2 linked regions of the Homo sapiens genome follow. The protein of the gene in region 1 purifies or fractionates together with the protein of each later gene. This does not show direct contact. Each region holds a gene or a part of one and is shown on either strand. Other genes may lie near its edges. The genes, in order: EXD2 and CLPX.

Region 1 (4,255 bases):
TTTGCATTTCCTCTTTATCCTTTGTTTTTTAAGTGTTTCAAGATGGAGCAGATAAAAATTCAGGGAGTTAATCCTCTATAATAGCTGGAAATTTCCCCCATGGGTACTCATTCAATGGAATTTAAAACATTTGCCCCTGTATTGAAGGCAATATAGTATAAAGGATGGGGCCACATGCTCTGCAATCAGAAATATGAGGTTTGATTCCTAACTCCGGTGCTTACTTGCTGAATTACCTTGAGGAAGTTATTTAACCTTTTTCTATTTTATGTAAAACGGCACTAATAATAGTACTGCCTCACAGGGTTGTTATGGGGATTAAAGGAGAAAAAATAAGTAAAATGCTTTGCAAAGTTCCTAGCAACAGGTGAGCACAAAGTCAACAAATGGTAGCTATTATTATACCTTATATTGGTTATTTATGCACATCTCATTTCTCCTTCTGTTTTACACATTCCATGAGAAAGGAAAAGCATGCATGTAGCACAGATTAACTGCCTCACATATAATTGCTAATAAAGACTGATTGGATGAACGATTTAATATATAAACAAAAAGTATTGTGGTTATCGCTATAAAAGATGGCATAGGTTGGGCATTCACGCCTGTAATCCCAGCACTTTGGGAGGCCGAGTTGTGAGGTTCGCTTGAGCCCAGGAGTTCGAGACCAGCCTAGGCAATGTAGGGAGACAGTATCTACAAAAAAAAAAAAAAAAAAAAAAAAGGAGGGTACATAAAATTATTATAGTGGCTATAGGATAATGTGCACTGCTAATGAAGACTACATTATTTAAATACAGTGTCTTTCCTTCTATTTACTGTTATCGTTTAGCAGAAAAACAGTACGCAGGATACTAAAGAAGGAAAATTCGATGTCCCATATTACATTTGTGAGAGTTCTGGAGGTTTCTCCCTTCAAAGCCAAAACCAAAACACAAACATACCATCCCAGTAACAAATGCGTCACTTTTCTGAAGAAGACGTTAAGCCCTTCCAATTTTAACAGATCCTTTGTTCAACAGAGGAGAGAGACTGGGTAGGCATCACCTGCCCCAGTAGCTTCCGTACAAAATGGCGTTGCCCGTTCCCACACGCCAGCTGGGATTACGTCCTCCAGGCCTGTCGCAGGAACGGAAGTGGTTACGGCCCTAGTGAATCCGGGTGGGTGCGCGCAGGCGGCCGCACAGGTTCCAGGTCTTTAACGTGAGCCCGCTGCAGGTGTGCGGCCCAGTCCGAGACAGCAGGTAAGTGAGGCTCAGAAGCCGGCGAAGCCTTGCACCAGGATTGTGCGCGGGGCAGGGGGTGCTTCCAGTGCAGACTAAGAGGGGTCGTGGAGCGGGGGGATATTACCGTGTACGGGGGTGACATTGCGGGGCCCCCGCTGTCCCGGAGCGAGTTGGCCCTGCCCCTCTCCCCGCCCCTCGGCGTGACCCCCTCGCCCCCGTCGCACACGGCGGGGCGGTTCAGCACCCAGGTGCGCAAGGAGGGCCTCACCCCTGCCCGCGGCCTCCCACGCCCTCCTTGGGCCTCTCCTTTCGACCCCCTTACCCTCTCCCTGGGAGACTCTACCAGACCTTCGAGGCTGCGTGTCCCAGTCAGCTAAAAAGGAGGCCCCGCCCGCGGCACCTGGTAGCTCCTCGGGCGCTGCGGGTTCGACGCGGCAACAGCTGCTGTTTTCTCTCCTGGATTCGTGTGAGCCGCCACCCTCGCTACCATCCCTGTCCTCCCAGACCACACCCTGCTCTGGGCCTTGCCGGGAGCCACCTCTTTGGCTTTTCACATCCCTGGGATGGATCAAAACTAAGAACCTTAATCATTATTTATTACAAAATTGACATCTGCTCCTTAAAATACAAACAAACCAATCCCCCGATAAGCTTTTGATATGATTCCAACATTCAAACTCCTTTATATACCCTCTCCTCAAAAACACAAAATTGAAATTATACTTTATTTTCTTAGTTCTGTTCCAAGGATAGAAGGAATTGAAAGGTTTTGTTAATCATAGGAATTAGGAAGTGCGGGTTGGGGCGCAGCGGGGAAGATGGATTAAATTTGGTCAAGTTGAGCTTGTTTTAAAAATGTATTTTTAAAATATTCTAGTTATAGTCCGTGCATAAAGCCTTGTAACAAAATTATGTAAAAATTTTAAACACAGATCTTTCTTAGCTTGATGTTCTTGGTGGTGAGGGTGGGGAGTGTGGAAGACAGATCCTCTTTGATTTTGTTTTTTTCCATCTCCACCTTCTTTACCAGTCCCTTTCCCACAAAATAAGAACTGTTGTCAGTTTGTGTGTATTTTTCTTTGCATTTATTTGACAAGTATGTGTACGTATAAGATATATGTTTGTAAGATTTCGCTTTAAACTTTTACAAATATGCATGTTTTATGCATTACACAACTTGACGTTTTATGCTTAAAAACGGGTCTTGGAATTTTTTCTTTGTCAGTACCTAGAGATCTACCTATTCTTTCTACTTGCTCTGTAAATTCCATGGTTATGTAAGATTCCATAGATTGTTTCCAGTTTTTCATTGTTAGACACAGTATGGCGGAGAACATCCTTCCCACACACCTCTGTGAGAGCCCATGTGAGAGCATTTCTCAAGGATGGGTACCTGCAGGTGGAATTGCTGGGTGGGAGAGTATGGGGATTTAGGAATGCCAAACTGCCACCCACGGTGGATAATAATTTCCTCCATTCTCTCTCTCTTTTTTTTTTTTTTTTGAGACAGAGTCTTGCTCTGTTGCCCAGGTTGGAGTGCAGTGGCGTGATCTCAGCTCACTGCAGCCTCTGCCTCCCAGGTTCAAGCGATTCTCCTGCCTCAGCCTCCCGAGTAGCTGGTATTACAGGCACCCGCTACCACGCCTGGCTAATTTTTGTATTTTTAGTAGAGACGGGGTTTCACCGTATTTGCCAGGCTGGTCTCAAACTCCTAAACTCGAGTGATCCGCCTGCCTTGGCCTCCCGAAGTGATGGGATTACAGGCGTGAGCCACCGTGTCTGGCCCACCATGCTCTTTTGATCATTTAATGGTATCGATCTTTTTTGTTTTTGCCAATCTGATGGATGGAAAAGTGATTTCTCTTTGCTGTTTTAATTTGCATTCCCCTGATTACTATTGAGATTGAACATCTTCATGATTGTCAGCCATTTGTATTTCCTCTTTTGAGAAACATCTCTTTCTATTGGATTGTCTTTTCCTTATTGATTTATAATAGTATTTTATATGTTCTGGATTTTGATCTTTTGTTATTCATATGTGTTTATAATATTTACTCCCTGCTTATTGCTTTTTTAAGTTGTTGCTTGTCTTTTAACTATATGGCATCTTTGTTGAAACAAAGTTTAAAATTTTAGGTTTTAATTTATCAGTCTGTTATGTGTGTGTTTGTATTTTGTGGCTATCATTCCCAATCCGAGTGGTTCTTAAATGGCAGAGATTTTTGCTCTCGGGGTTATTTGGCAATGTCTGTAAACATTTTTTGTTTGTTCCACTAGGATGGTGCTGCTATTGGTTATCTAGTGAGTAAAAGCGAGGGTGCTGCTAAACATCCTACAGCGCACGGGAAAGCTTCCCACAACAAAGAATTTCACCAGCCAAAAATGTCAGTTGTGCTGAAGTTGAAAAATCCTTCTCTACTTTTAGAGAGAGGAGGGTTTTCTCCTAAAGCTCTGTTTTCTCCTTGAAGTTCTTCTTGTGGGAATAGTTTTTTTTCTTTAATTCCTCTGGAATTGTGTGTGTGTGATTGTTGTTTTCCAAATACTGTCACCTCGAACAGTCAGTCCATTCTTTTTTTTTTTTTTGAGTCAGAGTCTCGCTGTGTCGCCCAGGCTGGAGTGCAGTGGCGCGATCTCAGCTCACTGCAACCTCTGCCTCCCGAGTTCATGCCATTCTCCTGCCTCAGCCTCCCAAGTAGCTGGGACTACAGGCGCCCACCACCTCGCTTGGCTAATTTTTTGTATTTTTAGTAGAGATGGGGTTTCACCGTGTTTGCTAGGATGGTCTCGATCTCCTGACCTCGTGATCCACCTGCCTCGGCCTCCCAAAGTGCTGGGATTACAGGTGTGAGCCACCGCGCCCGGCCTAGTCAGTCCATTCTTGAACCATTAATCCGAAATGCCACACTTACCATGTACTAATTTCTTTTTTTTCTTTTTAATTTTTATTTGTAGAGATAGAGATGAGTTTTTGCTATGTTGTTCAGGCTGGTCTCAAACTCCTGGCCTCAGGAGATTCTCCCCCATCAGCC
Region 2 (3,818 bases), on another chromosome or scaffold:
ATGTGGCGACTTGTGCACACATGTAGAGACCTTTGTATGTAAGTATTACATCTTCTACTGTTCTTTTTTCCCTACATTTTCTGTAAATTACTAAGTGTATAAAAATATGTAAATTATGTAAAATGTATAAATATAGGCCAGGTGCAAACGGCTTATGCCTATAATCCTAGCACTTTGGAAGGAGGAGATGGGAGAATCCCTTGAGCCTAGGAGTTCAAGACCTGCCTGGGCAACATGTTGAGACACCTGTCTTTCCAAAAAAAAAAAAAAAGCCAGGTATGGTGGTGCATACCTGTGGTCTTAGCTACTTCTTTTAAGAAGGTTGAGGCTGCAGTGAGCCATGGTCATGCCACTGTACCCCATCCTGGGTGACAGAGACCCTGTCTCAAAAAAAAGAAATATATATATATAAATTGTATTAAATGTGTAGAAATATGGATTATATGAAATAGATAAATGTATGTGACTTTGTATGTTATATAAATTATATGTAAATTGTATGAGCTTACCTGATTCTCTCTTATGTTCACTATATACTAGAAAATCTTCAGGACTGGTAATACTTTGCACTGTTGTGTAAGAGATAATTTAAGAAAAACATTTGCTTCTTTATTTTGCTTACTTGTGTTTATTTCAAATTAGATTTTGTGAATTTCTGGATGTGATCATTAGGCTATAGGAGAACCAAGACTTATTTATTCTGTATTTATTACTACTTTCTTCAAATACATATTGAATATCTCACATGGCTGGGAAGGCCAGTCATTCATATATTAAGGTAATTTCCCTTAGTACTTACCAAAGGAGGTAAGCCCTCAATTCCGGGAAGCATCTGATAATTATTAATGATTCAGACACTCAGAGAAGGAAGAAATCAGGGCTGGGCACAGTGACTCACACCTGTAATCCCAGCACTTTCAGAGGCTGAGGTAGGCAGAGTGCTTGAGCCCAGAAGTTCAAAACCAGCCTGAGCAACATGGCAAAACCCCATATGTATAAAAAAATAAAATTAGCTAGGCATGGTGGTGCATGGCTATAGTTCCAGCTACTTAGGGGCTGAGGTAGGAGGATCGCTTGAGCCTGGGAGGTGAGGCAGCAGCGAGCCAGCCATTGAATTCCAGCCTCGGCGACAAAGCAAGAACCTGTCTCAAAAAAAGAAAAAAAGAAGGAAAAAAATCATGTATCCTACTTTTGCTGTTAGTGTCAGTAACTCTCTGAAATGCAAAGATTCTACTACAGATATTTTCATTAATGAATCAAATAATCAAAAAACTCATTACTTAACATAATTTAGAGTTAATGGTAATGAATTGTACCACCATGTCAGCCTTCCTATACAATCCAATTGAAGAAAGCTTCAAGATTGTAAGACTTCAGTGTCTGATGGTTGGCTAGAGAGTATTCTCTATCTCCTAACCCTAATATTGAGACTTTGGTTACAATTTCACACTTACCATTAACCATAATTGGCCACCATATGAAAAGGTACTAGATGTAGTGTGTTTTTATGTACTGGAAAGACTTAAAGTAGCTCCATCCCATAGCTGGAATATTAGGGGTTCTGAACAAAATTTAATTTGGATCACAACATAAAATGAAAGTGGGCCAGGCGCTGTGGCTCACACCAGTAATCACAGGACTTTGGGAGGCCGAGGCGGGCTGATCACTTGAGGTCAGGAGCTTGAGACCAGCCTGCTCAATATGGTGAAACCCCATCTCTACTAAAAATACAAAAATTAGCCGGGCGTGGTGGCGTGCATCTGAAGTCCCAGCTGTTCGGGAGGCTGAGACAGGAGAATCTCTTGAACCTGGGAGGTGGAGGTCATGGTGAGCCAAAATCACACCACTGCACTTCTCCAGCCTGGGCGACAGAGTGAAACTCCATCTCAAAAAAAAAAGGTAGAACTGGATGATAAAACCTTCTAAACAAATTTGATGTGATATAATAAAATTATACAGAGGCTGAAAATTGTTCAATTTATAAGGTCAGTGTCTTATATTTTAATCAAGAAATTTTCCTCCTTTTTTTTTCTTCAAAGAAACATTTCAACCTTTATAGACCTAAAGAATAATTTGTTGCCAGGCGCGGTGGCTTACACCTGTAATCCCAGCACTATGGGAGGCTGAGGTAGGCAGATCACCAGAGGTGAGGCGTTCAAGACCAGCCTGGCCAACGTGGTGAAACCCCGTCTCTACTAAAAATACAAAATTAGCTGGGCGTGGTGGCGGGCACCTGTAATCCCAACTACTCAGGAAGCCGAGGCAGGAGAATTGCTTGAACCTAGGAAGCGGAGGCTGCAGTGAGCCGAGATCACACCACTGCACTCTAGCCTGGGAAACAAGAGTGAAACTCCGTCTCCAAAAAAAAAAAAAGAAAGAAAAAAAAGAAAAAAGAATAATTTCTTAGAGTAGAAAAGGAAAGAAACTAATATTTAATAAATGCCAACATATATAGTTTTATTCTTGCACCCTTAATTTTGCCAGAACAAAGAGTATTCTCCTTTTTATAAATAAACTGAGATTTAGCAAGTTTAAGTAACTCATTCAAGGTCACATAGCAGTGAAGATTTGCTATTCAGAAATTCCTATATCATACATTTCTACCATCTGGAGATACTTTAGGAGTAAACTAGCTCCTCTTGGGATTAAATTTATTTTCCTTCTATGCATTCTTTCCAAAACTTGCCAGGTTGTATTAGTCACTGAAGGTGACTGTTAAACTTAGAGATTCCCAAACTCCTTCCCTAGAGATTAAGATTCTGTAGATGTGGGATGGAGTCCTAGAATTTGTATGTTAGTAGTATATGTATATTATTAGTTAGACCAAGTGTGGAAACACTACTTTAGTGTAATCAATTCAAGGCTGAGGCCTGTTTGCTTTGAGAATTCTAATTGTGGGTGGTGATATGGGAGTAGAAAATGTAGAAGGAAAGAATGAAAAAAAGAGCACACACTTATGTGCAAAATTAATAGCAAATGTGTTGATTCAGACATCACTAGGCTCAGAAAATATGCAGATGATCATGACACTGTCCCTGTCCTCTAACTATTTGTAGGCCCTAGCAGTGCAGTGAGCCCCTCCTCCCTTAGTTTTGTGTACCCATAATAAAAGTCTTTTCAGAATGCATCCTTTTGAATCCTTCTGTGTCTGATCATTAAAAGTTGGGTCTTCATAGTCCTAAAGAGAGTTTTATTTGATCTCAGGTTACTAACAGGTTGAGCATCCGTAGTCTGAAAATCTGGAATTCAAAATGCTCTGAAATCCTTTTGAGTGCGTCATGACGCTTAAAGGAAATGCTCCATTGGAGCATTTCAGATTTCAGATTTCATGTAGGGGTGCTTAACCAGTGTATTTCTGTGAATATTCCAAAACGTGAAAACATTTGAACTCTGAAACACTTCTGGTCCCGTGCATTTTGGTTAAGGGATAACTCAGCCTGTTTTTTTGTTTGTTTTTTGTTTCTATTGTTTTTCTGAGGCAGAGTTTCACTGTTCTCACCCAGGCTGGAGTGCAGTGGCGCGATCTTGGCTCACTGCAACTTCTGCCACCTGGATTCAAGTGCCAGCCTCAGGTGCCTCAGCCGCAGCCTCCCAAGTAGCTGGGATTACAGGTGCCCACCACCATGCCAGGCTAATTTTTGTATTTTTAGTAGAGACGGGGTTTCACCTTGTTGGCCAGGCTGGTCTCGAATTCCTGACCTCAGGTGATTCACCTGCCTTGGCCTCCCAAAGTGCTGGCATTACAGGTGTGAGCCACCATGCCTGGCCTGCATTTTAAGTCTGCATTTATTTGGATACTAGTTTGTAAACATCTTTTT

The links.
Region 2: the proteins of EXD2 (region 1) and CLPX purify together in Homo sapiens (affinity purification with mass spectrometry; one large-scale study listed by BioGRID and IntAct). This does not show direct contact.

Annotation. Positions count from the first base shown.
Region 1 is NC_000014.9:69,190,348-69,194,602, forward strand, and holds the start of EXD2 (exonuclease 3'-5' domain-containing protein 2), read left to right. Parts: upstream 1-1,150; 5' UTR 1,151-1,244; intron 1,245-1,423; exon of another isoform or gene 1,424-1,692; intron 1,693-4,255. UniProt on the Homo sapiens protein: Exonuclease that has both 3'-5' exoribonuclease and exodeoxyribonuclease activities, depending on the divalent metal cation used as cofactor.
Region 2 is NC_000015.10:65,175,154-65,178,971, reverse strand, and holds part of CLPX (ATP-dependent clpX-like chaperone, mitochondrial precursor), read left to right. Parts: coding exon 1-38; intron 39-3,818. UniProt on the Homo sapiens protein: ATP-dependent chaperone that functions as an unfoldase.